3 linked regions of the Homo sapiens genome follow. Changing the gene in region 1 together with any one later gene gives a genetic interaction. Each region holds a gene or a part of one and is shown in the gene's direction. Other genes may lie near its edges. The genes, in order: TPSAB1, CAMK2G and DBH.

Region 1 (3,665 bases):
CTGGGCCACCCCTGCCTGTCCCCCGGGGGGTGCAGCCCGGAAGGAGTCCAGATGGATATGGCCCCGCAGTGCAGAGTCAGCCCCAAACCAGGCTGGTCCCAGGCAGGGTGGGGGCAGGAGGAGCCCCGGAGTGGCCCTGTGTTGGGGGTCGGGGGGCAGGCAGGGGGTCCTGGGGCTCAGAAGCGGAGGAGGTGGGCTGGAGGCCCCAGTGACCAACAGGCCCAGGGGAGTCGGGAGGTGGGGTGGACGGACCTGCAGGGACAGTGTCAGCGCTGAATGGGATGGAGAGCACAGGGAGCTGGGGCCGGGGATGAGACCATGGGGAGCTGGGGCTGGGGCTGGGACTAGTCCATGGGGAGCTGGGGCTGAAGTTGGGGGTGAGTCCATGGGGAGCTGGGCTGGGCCTCCTGGGGTTGCACCTGCACTCCTCTCTGCTCTTCCCTCTGCGTATGAAGCTCAGATCCCATGATAAGGAGGCACCTGCAGACCAGGGGACCTGCACGGACAGCCCCAGAGGTGGACATTGAGGACTCGTAGGAGGACTTGGGTCTCATACGGCGGGTGGGGAGCAGGGCCCCTTCCTGGCTGAGGACACTTGGTGCTGTCCCCTCTCAAGGCTGTTTCCCCATCTGACAAAGGGGTCTCACGTGAGCCCCCAACCAAGTGAGTCGAGGAGGGCTGGCCCCACCCCCGTGGATTCGGAGTCCGTAGGAGGGGTGTCACCCGTCATGTCCCCACCCCGTGGGCACCTTCCCGTCTCTTGGAGCGTGGCCCATGGACATGAGTTCCTCACCCGTGTCCCTCTTGGGGAAACAGGTTTCAGGAGCGACGGGTCTTGTAGCCTGGGGCAGCCAGGCCACCTGGGTGCAGCAATGCCTGAAGGCCTCCTGGCACCGAGACAGGGGCAGGAGCAGATCCCACCAGCGGGAAGGTGGTGGGTTCCAGTGCTGGGATCCACCAGCTGACAGGTGGAGCTGCCAGTCTCCAGTGCTCAGCCCTCAGCGGGGCCTGCCTGGCAGCCCCACACACAGAGGGCATCGGGGTGGCGGGGGCACGTGTTACACGGGGGCCCTGGGTCTGAGTCATCCACTTCCTCCGAGTCTGGATGGGAGGACCCAGCGCCCCTCCTCCGCCCCCTCCTGATCTGGAAGGATAAATGGGGAGGGGAGAGCCCACTGGGTAGAAGGAACAGGGAGCGGCCAGGGTAAGTCCCCACTCTCAGAGACCCTGACATCAGCGTCACCTGGAGCAGAGTGGCCCAGCCTCAGACTCAGAGCACCAAGACCCAGGCCCGCAGGCCTGGACCCACCCCGGTCCCCCCGTCCCAGCTCCATTCTTCACCCCACAATCTGTAGCCCCCAGCCCTGCCCTGTGAGGCCCGGCCAGGCCCACGATGCTCCTCCTTGCTCCCCAGATGCTGAATCTGCTGCTGCTGGCGCTGCCCGTCCTGGCGAGCCGCGCCTACGCGGCCCCTGGTGAGTCCCAGCCGGGGTCCACCCTGCCCCTCACCACATTCCACAGGTCAGGGCCTGGGTGGGTTCTGGGGAGGTCGGGCTGGCCCCCACACAGGGAAGGGCTGGGCCCAGGCCTGGGGCTGCTTCCTGGTCCTGACCTGGCACCTGCCCCAGCCCCAGGCCAGGCCCTGCAGCGAGTGGGCATCGTCGGGGGTCAGGAGGCCCCCAGGAGCAAGTGGCCCTGGCAGGTGAGCCTGAGAGTCCACGGCCCATACTGGATGCACTTCTGCGGGGGCTCCCTCATCCACCCCCAGTGGGTGCTGACCGCAGCGCACTGCGTGGGACCGTGAGTCTCCCGGGGCCTGGAGGGGTGGGGAAGGGCTGGATGTGAGCCCTGGCTCCCGGGTGCTCCTGGGGGCTGCCCAGGGCCCTGAGTGGGATCCTCCGCTGCCCAGGGACGTCAAGGATCTGGCCGCCCTCAGGGTGCAACTGCGGGAGCAGCACCTCTACTACCAGGACCAGCTGCTGCCGGTCAGCAGGATCATCGTGCACCCACAGTTCTACACCGCCCAGATCGGAGCGGACATCGCCCTGCTGGAGCTGGAGGAGCCGGTGAACGTCTCCAGCCACGTCCACACGGTCACCCTGCCCCCTGCCTCAGAGACCTTCCCCCCGGGGATGCCGTGCTGGGTCACTGGCTGGGGCGATGTGGACAATGATGGTGGGTCTGGGGACAGTGGAGGTGGGGCCAGGGTCTTAGCCACAGCCCAGCCCCTGGGCTCCCTCTGGGCTCCAGGTGGGGGTTGCCCGGCCCCCTCCTGAGGCTGCACCCTCTTCCCCACCTGCAGAGCGCCTCCCACCGCCATTTCCTCTGAAGCAGGTGAAGGTCCCCATAATGGAAAACCACATTTGTGACGCAAAATACCACCTTGGCGCCTACACGGGAGACGACGTCCGCATCGTCCGTGACGACATGCTGTGTGCCGGGAACACCCGGAGGGACTCATGCCAGGTGGGCCCCGCCTGTCCCCCGCCCCCCGCCCCCCAACCCCCACTCCCAGGCCTGTTCGGCGAGCGCTGACCTCTGACCTTCCCAGGGCGACTCCGGAGGGCCCCTGGTGTGCAAGGTGAATGGCACCTGGCTGCAGGCGGGCGTGGTCAGCTGGGGCGAGGGCTGTGCCCAGCCCAACCGGCCTGGCATCTACACCCGTGTCACCTACTACTTGGACTGGATCCACCACTATGTCCCCAAAAAGCCGTGAGTCAGGCCTGGGTTGGCCACCTGGGTCACTGGAGGACCAACCCCTGCTGTCCAAAACACCACTGCTTCCTACCCAGGTGGCGACTGCCCCCCACACCTTCCCTGCCCCGTCCTGAGTGCCCCTTCCTGTCCTAAGCCCCCTGCTCTCTTCTGAGCCCCTTCCCCTGTCCTGAGGACCCTTCCCTATCCTGAGCCCCCTTCCCTGTCCTAAGCCTGACGCCTGCACCGGGCCCTCCAGCCCTCCCCTGCCCAGATAGCTGGTGGTGGGCGCTAATCCTCCTGAGTGCTGGACCTCATTAAAGTGCATGGAAATCACTGGTGTGCATCGCTGTGTTTCTGGTTGTGGATGTCACTGGGAGAGAAGGGGTCCAGGTGTGCTGAGGACACCTGCCACAGTGTGAGGTCCTAGCCCTCAAGGCACAGCCAGTCACCGTGGGACGGGGCCTCCTGGGCAGCCCTGGTCCCCGAGGCTGGCTTCTCCCCACACGATGCATCCAGCATTCGGGTCACACAGAGCCACTCGGGCAACTCAGTTGATTATAAAGGACAGCCAGGTCCCTGCAACCGGGTCAAGACAGAGAATGGTCGCCGGGAGCCCCAGGGCTGCCCATCATGAGCCCCTACCCCACGCTTCCCACGAGCTCTTCTCCCGGCCCCTCTGTCCACTGCTTGTGCTTTGCCTAGTTGTTTGCTTTGAGACGGGATCTCGCTGTGTCATCCAGGCTGAAGTGCAGTGGTGTGATCAGGGCTCACTGCAGCCTTAACTCCTGGGCTCAAGCGATCCTCCCATCTTGGCCTCCCATATAGCTGGGCCACAGGCGTGAGCCACCACGCCCAGTTAATTTTTGTATTTTCAGTAGAGATGGGGTTTCGCCATGTTGGCCAGTCTGGTCTCGAACTCCTGACCTCAAGTGATCCGCCCGCCTCGGCCTCCCAAAGTGCTGGGATGA
Region 2 (3,646 bases), on another chromosome or scaffold:
AGCAGCAAGGAGAAGCTATTGGGAGTTCTTAGCAGGAGTAACAGAATCTAGTTGACACTTTAAAACACCACTCTGGCCTCATGATCAAGAACTCTAGGGAGGCCCGGGCGTGGTGGCTCACGCCCGTAATCCCTGCACTTTGGAAGGCCGAGGCGAGTGGATCAGCAAAGGTCAGGAGCTCGAGACCAGCCTGGCCAACATGATGAAACCCCATCTCTAATAAAAATACAAAAATTAGCCAGGCATGGTGGCAGGCACCTGTAATCCCAGCTACTCAGGAGGCTGAGACAGGAGAATCACTTGAACCCGGGAGGCAGAGGTTGCAGTGAGCCGAGATCATGCCATTGCACTCCAGCCTGTGCAACAAGAGCAAAACTCTGTTTCAAAAAAGAAAAACTCTAGGGAGGAGGTAAGTGTGGAAGTTAGGGAGACCATGAAGCTGTTATCATGGTTCAGGTGTGAGATGCTGGTGGCCTGGAGTCAGGTTGTAGCTGTGCATTGGAAGTGAAGAGGTAAGACATGGGGTTTACTTTGGAGGCAGAACCAGAAGATTTTATTTTAGATTGGGCGATCTGAATATAAGGGAAAAAGAGAAAGAGAAGGATTGAGGATGACTCCAGGTTTTAGCCTGAGTAACTGGGTAGATGGTGGCATTTACCAACTGGGGGAAGACTAGGGAGGGGATTTGGGAAGAGTCAGACAGCCAGGGTGGAAGCAGAACCTTCCACAATTCCTCCTTGCACCTCTTGTAGGAGCAGAAACTCTGCTTTTGTTCTGCTTTGCTCCTCTGGCTTCCAAGGGATGGAGCATATAGAAACATGTTCTTTTTGGCCTACAGGGCTCCACAGAGAGCTGCAACACCACCACAGAAGATGAGGACCTCAAAGGTAGGTGCTGGCCCTTGGAGGGGGAAGGACTCCAGCAGTGACCCAGGTACCTGGGCTCCAATGGGGCACCTGCCTTTTCTGTCCCCAGAACTGGGAATGCTGGCTCCTATGCCCCTAGGAGAGGGCTTGGTATAAAAGCTACTTTCCACGAGCCAAGATATGAGGCCCCTGTCTGGTGTTGCTGAGTTGGGCAAGAGGCTTCTCTTCTTTGACCCCAAGTCTAAAATAGCTAAGCTAGAGATTCTCCAGGGGCCAGGGCTCAGAGAACTGTTCCTGTTGCTGATAATGATGTGCCATCCAAGAACAGGGGTACCCCAAGTCCCTGCCGAAGTAGCCTGTAAGTGCTATGAGTCATAAATAGAGTGACCAATCACTCCTGGTTTTCCTCGGACACAGAACTTTTGGTTTTAAGACTGTGATGGGCCAGGAGTGCTGGCTCACACCTGTAATACCCAGAACTTTGGGAGGGCCAGGGCAGAAGGATTGCTTGAGACCAGGAGTTTGAGACAAGCTTGGGCAACATAGCAAGACCTTGTCTCTATTAAAAAAAAAAAATTAGGAACAAATAAATAGGCCAGGTGCGGTGACTCACACCTGTAATCCCCACACTTTGGGAGGCCGAGGCAAGTGGATCACTTGAGGTCAGGAGTTCAAAACCAGCCTGGCCAACATGATGAAACCCCGTCTCTACTAAAAATACAAAAAAAGGCCGGGCGTAGTGGCTCACGCCTGTAATCCCAACACTTTGGGAGGCCAAGGTGGGTGGATCACCTGAAGGTCAGAAGTTCAAGACCAGCCTGGCCAACATGGTGAAACTCCATCTCTACTAAAAATATAAAAAATTAGCCAGGTGTGGTGGCAGGTGCCTGTAATCGTAGCTACTCGGGAGGCGGAGGTGGGAGAATCGCTTGAACCTGGGAGGTGGAGGTTGCAGTGAGCCGAGATCACCCCATTGCACTCCAGCCTGGGCAACAAGAGCGAAACTTCTTCTCAAAAAAAAAAAAAAAAAAAAAAAAAATTAGCCGGGTGTGGTGGCGGGGTCCTGTAATCCCAGCTACTCGGGAGACTGAGGCATGAAAATGGCTTGAACCCGGGAGGTGGAGGTTGCAGTGAGCTGAGATTGCACCACTGCACTCCAGCCTGGGTGACAGAGCGAGACTCTGTCTCAAGAAAAAAAAAAAAAAAAAAATATATATATATATATATATATATATATAAATATAAAACCCAGATAGTCCTGGGAACACTGGGATGAGTTGGTCACTCTAGTCCTAAGATTTTGGCCTGAATGATGGAGTTGGAACTAATCTGACAACCGTGAGGCCACATTTGGTCATGTCCTGGTGGGCCCGTAAGGACCACTAGCCTAAGCTTGGGCCTGGCTAGAGTGCCAGGGCGGTGGGAGGGCATGGCAGGCTGGACCCCCGGGAATCTCTGTCCTGCTCTTTGATTGGGCCTCCTGGAATTGCTCCCTTTGCCTGAATTCAGTAAGTGACCTTGGGCCAGGACATCAGAAAAGACAGAGGAACACTCTAGGACAGAGCTGGGAGAGCATGCCCTGGGTGGCAAGGGGGCACCAAACCTTTTGGAACCAAAAAAAATAGCAGAAAGCTGCGAGGAAGTGAATCATAGTAGCTCCAGGCCCCTGTGAGTGAGGTCAGATCAGTTTTGATTCCGGCACTGCTGGCAACATAGGAGGCGCTGTCACTGCTGGGCTCTGGACCCTGTGGCCTGGCCCCCTGGAACATCTTCCCCGGGATCAGGGGTCCTTGGACAGGCTGTTGTAAGGCTCGTCTGGAAGCCACAGCCCAGGTCTGGGCACCTGCCTGGTGCCCTCAGCTGGGAGGCCTCTCTGGCAGAGGCGGCGGCGTGGGATGTCGTCCAGTGTCCACAGCAGCCTGAGGCGAGGCGTCCCCTTGCCCCGGCTCTGCAGCGCCATGGGCTCGGGGCCTGTCTGGCTTGCTCGCTCACCTGCCTTGTTCTGTTTGTTTTGGCTGCTCTGCCTTGCCCTGCCCTGCCCTGCCCTGGCTGGCTAGCTGCCCCGCTCCGCACTGGGAATGGCAGCTCGGTGCCTGAAGGACGGAGCTCCCGGGACAGAACAGCCCCCTCTGCAGGCATGCAGCCCCAGCCTTCTCTCTGCTCCTCAGCCAGTAAGTGTGAGGGAGGCACATTCTGGCTTCCGTCTCCCTGGCTCGTCCTGAAGCCCCTCAGGGACCCCCACCACAGCTGTCAGTCCCACCCACCTGCCCGTGGTAGTAAGCTCTGGGAGCATGGCCTCTGCTGGGGGTGGGGGGTAGACTGGAGGTGCTGTTGAGACCAGGCAGGGGCCCCTGAGTCTGGGGCCCAAAGAAATATGAGAAGTGTGGGTGGAAAAACATGGCCTGGGATGAGGGGAGTAGAAAGCCCCCAGGATGTGCAGTGGGCCTTGCCTCAGCGCTGAGCCAGGAAGAAGGGCAGAGTCGGAAGTCAGGTCTGTGGGGGTGGGAGTGGGATGATGGGGAAATCGTGACAGCGAGGAACTGTGTTGGGGATGTAGTGCTTCCTGAGTCTCAGCATAACAGTATTAAGAGCATGGGGTCAGAGGCAAGATAGATCTGAGTTTAAATCCCAGCTACACTGCCTTCAAGAGTGTGAAGTTTAACCTCCCAGAGCTGCAGGTTCCTTATCTGTAATGTGGAAATAAAATGGCACGCACCTCAGAGCCTTGTTAGATAAAAGACAAGGCAGTAGGAAGTCTTGATACGGTGCCTCGATGGGTT
Region 3 (3,646 bases), on another chromosome or scaffold:
CCCCTTCATGAAAAAGCAGCTCGAGTCAGAACTCACTTGCTCTCGAACACCCGTCCGGGGAAGACAGAATAGCAAAGGCGATAGCTGTCGAGTGTCCACTATGCCACTAGTCCCGGGGGAGGGGCGAGGTGATCCCTCCTTCATCATAAGAGCCCCTAGTTTCCAGCAGAGGAAGTGTGGCCCAGGGAGGTTGAGTGTCCAGGGTCACATAGCAAGAAGGGGCATGTCCTTGAAGGTGCACTCAGAGAGGTTATGTGAGTGTCCAGAGTCACACAGCAGGAAGAGGCATGGCCTTGAAGGTGCGCTTTGGGCCCGGGCTCTAACCTCAGGGCTGCCCTGCCTCCCACTGGGGCTGCAGGAGCTGGCCCGGCCACAGCCCCATATGCATGAGGACGGCTGCGTCCTGTCCCTGCCTTGGCCTGTACGAACCTCATTTCCTTCACTCTGGAGCTGCCTACGGGATTTCTTTCTGGGCTGATGGCTCCACCCTCAAGGCTGTGAACCCCAGAAGTGCCCCTGAAATTGTCTGGATCATCCCTCCCATTTTACAGATGGGCATTCGGAAGCCCATGGAGGAGGGCTGCTGGGGAGGGGAGGGTGGGCGGCCGGTTCCCGGGCTCAGAGGGCTGCCTCCTCACAGTACGAGCCCATCGTCACCAAGGGCAATGAGGCCCTTGTCCACCACATGGAAGTCTTCCAGTGCGCCCCCGAGATGGACAGCGTCCCCCACTTCAGCGGGCCCTGCGACTCCAAGATGAAACCCGACCGCCTCAACTACTGCCGCCACGTGCTGGCCGCCTGGGCCCTGGGTGCCAAGGTGCGTGCCCTGCGACCCCAGCATGGTGTCTCCTGCCTGGGCCCCTGGCATCCCCACACCTCTGTTTCCCCAGCTTCACCGTCTCAGAGGCTTCAAGAAGGGGCTCCCAAGGGGGCTCACGAGGCCACCAGAAGGGCCAGGCCTGAGGTGGCCCCCTCGCCTCTGTGATGTCTGAAATGCTTCAAGCCTTTTTTTTATTTTCCACAGAAACGCAAGTGCCGCAGGACCTTATGCCCTCAGTGGGTCCTGATTCTGTTTCCCAACTGGAGTCAGGGTTTTGTGTACAGGTGGTCCCAGGGCTGGCTGGCGGTGGGGCCAGTGTTGAGGCCTCCACAGGCTGAGACGATGGGGGTCTCCCCAGCTCTTACACCCGTCTAGAGAAGGGGTTTTGGGGGAAGGCTCAGCCCTAGGCACCAGCTCCTCTCCCCAACTCCCTGACCCGAGTCTCACAGGATGTTCCTGGGGCGTGTAATGAGCTGCCTGTCAGGAGGAAGCATCGCTCTAATCCTGCTGCGCCCCCTCCACCACCCCTGAGGCTCAGGCCCCAACAGTTGACTGGGTTTGCCCCTGCCCAGACCTGGGGCCCTCTCAGGACACACCCGTCTGTCTGACACCTTGCCCCACACAGGCATTTTACTACCCAGAGGAAGCCGGCCTTGCCTTCGGGGGTCCAGGGTCCTCCAGATATCTCCGCCTGGAAGTTCACTACCACAACCCACTGGTGATAGAAGGTAGGCGGCTCTGCTGCCATCCTCCTCAGAAGCCCTAGGACTCAGCTGTGTTGAGCCAGTGAGCAAATCCCGCCCTTCGTCTGCCCAGCATGGTGCCCCCGCTGTACAGCTCCTCTTGGCACGAGGCCCTTGCGTCTGCCTCATCCGCTGTCCATCTTCCATGGCTGTGGTGGGCTCCCAGGGACAGGACCTCGAGGGGCTCACTCCTCACAGCTTCGCCAGGGCCCAGCAGTGGCCCCACACCTCCCTCCTCGTCCCTATAATACGGGCTGCCATCGGCGCAGCACTGTGCATCCCAGGGGAAAGGACAAGGAGAATTTTCATAAGGGAAGCTGCCAGATGCCAAGTTCCAAATACAGGGAGAGGTGTGTGCATAAACAGGGAGGTGGTAGTAAAGCAGGGCATATTCCAGGACACAGGCGCTCCGGCCTGGCCAGAGTGCAGGGACGGGAAGGGGAGCTGGGGCAGCTGCTGTTGGATCACCCATACCTGAGGGTGGAGTGAGCAGGGTCAGCTTTTAGCATGGCAAGGCCAGGTGATGCTGTCTCAGAAACTGAAAAAAATACTTCCCTCTCTCTGTTGCACCAGCATCTTTCACCATATATAGACACACACGCACACAATGCACACACACACGCACACACACATGCACACATGTACACATATGCACGCAGAAGCACACACATGCACACACTTTTTCTCTCTCTCTGAATGGTGCTTCTTCTTTTCATTTGTGCAAGGTGCAGAAGTGGCCTAAGAGATAGGTGCTAGGCTGTGCCTCACCACCTTGGGGACGCTGGGTGGATGACCTCACCCGCTGCCTGTTCTCCCACCTCCCACAGCTATTGTGAAGCTGGGAAAGGCTCACGCACAGAACTTGCTGTGGGCACGGGGCTGTGCTCAGCTAACAGTCGCCTGTGGTTTTTTTTTTTTTTCCTGGCTGCATAAGTAATACCTTCCGCCACTGTTGGAGTTATCTCCACATGCACAGAGAAGGGTATAAGTCAGCTTGGGCCTTAGCATGACACGGGATTTATTGCTCATTTAAACCCTGAAAGCAAATGGATTTTTGAAAACTCCTGAAGCATCAGGGAAGTCTGTCTCTTCATGATTATCTGGTTGTATTTATGGATCCTTTGCCAAATATAAGGACGCTCCTGTCACTTCACCCATCTTGAGATGGGCTGCTTTTCTATAAATATCAAAATCCCACAATTATTTCATGATTTAATCCCCATCTGAATTTTAACCAATTGCAACACCCTTTTTATTATTATCCTCTGATGTAATCAGCCTGGAGATACAGGAGCCGTTTGAGTTTGGATGGTGTAGGGGTGTCGAGGGAAGAAGGCAGAGGCAAGAGGAGTTGTTTTGGCCTCATCTTAAAGGAAACAAGTAGGGAGATGGTTGGGCCCCCTGGAAGTGCCCTGCACCCCAGTCCACAGCCCTGGGTTTGAACCTCAGCTTGGCCACTTCCCAGCCCTGTGGTCTTGTGTGGAGTCTTCAGTTCAGGCTCCATCCTCAGTTTCTTAATCTGTGAAATAGGGCTGATGATTCTCACTGTGCAAAACTTCCATGAAAGGGGTAGGTTATGCTTAGAGCATTTTTGGCACCCAGGGAAGATGTTAGTATCTGTACCACCCTCTTGGTTTGATCAGAAAGGGCAATGCATGTACACTGGTGAGAAGATGGACAGCAGAAAAGCATGAAGAAGATGAAACCACCCCCCAGCTCCCGGCTCCAAGTTTTGAAGTGAGCACTGGTCACCCAGCTATGTGTCTGTCCTGACTGCTTTTCTGGCCCATTAATTTTTTTCTTGTGACTAGAATTTTATATCTTTTTTTTTCATTGTTGTTTGTTTTTTTACTTAAACTTCATCAGAAGCCTCTTCCCTGTGAATTAAAACCCCTTGTCAATTTCACACTCCTTGCCGCCTGACATCCCTTTCCTGTACATAACCCAGGGGGCAGAGCCTCCTGCTGCACAGCCCCTCCAGACCACCCCGCCATGTCCGCCATGTCCACCATGTCCACCATGCATCCGGGGGCATGGGGCCAGGCCTTTAGATCCTCCGCCAACCATGAGCCCAGCCGGTACT

The links.
Region 2: changes in TPSAB1 (region 1) and CAMK2G together harm fitness more than expected from each alone (negative genetic interaction), as found in Homo sapiens cells (one large-scale study listed by BioGRID).
Region 3: changes in TPSAB1 (region 1) and DBH together harm fitness more than expected from each alone (negative genetic interaction), as found in Homo sapiens cells (one large-scale study listed by BioGRID).

Annotation. Positions count from the first base shown.
Region 1 is NC_000016.10:1,239,525-1,243,189, forward strand, and holds TPSAB1 (tryptase alpha/beta-1 precursor), read left to right. Parts: upstream 1-1,180; 5' UTR 1,181-1,204; intron 1,205-1,414; coding exon 1,415-1,475; intron 1,476-1,628; coding exon 1,629-1,800; intron 1,801-1,909; coding exon 1,910-2,175; intron 2,176-2,302; coding exon 2,303-2,466; intron 2,467-2,551; coding exon 2,552-2,716; 3' UTR 2,717-3,030; downstream 3,031-3,665. UniProt on the Homo sapiens protein: Tryptase is the major neutral protease present in mast cells and is secreted upon the coupled activation-degranulation response of this cell type. May play a role in innate immunity.
Region 2 is NC_000010.11:73,818,923-73,822,568, reverse strand, and holds part of CAMK2G (calcium/calmodulin-dependent protein kinase type II subunit gamma), read left to right. Parts: intron 1-838; coding exon 839-887; intron 888-2,923; coding exon 2,924-3,037; intron 3,038-3,646.
Region 3 is NC_000009.12:133,642,773-133,646,418, forward strand, and holds part of DBH (dopamine beta-hydroxylase precursor), read left to right. Parts: intron 1-640; coding exon 641-817; intron 818-1,445; coding exon 1,446-1,548; intron 1,549-3,646. UniProt on the Homo sapiens protein: Catalyzes the hydroxylation of dopamine to noradrenaline (also known as norepinephrine), and is thus vital for regulation of these neurotransmitters.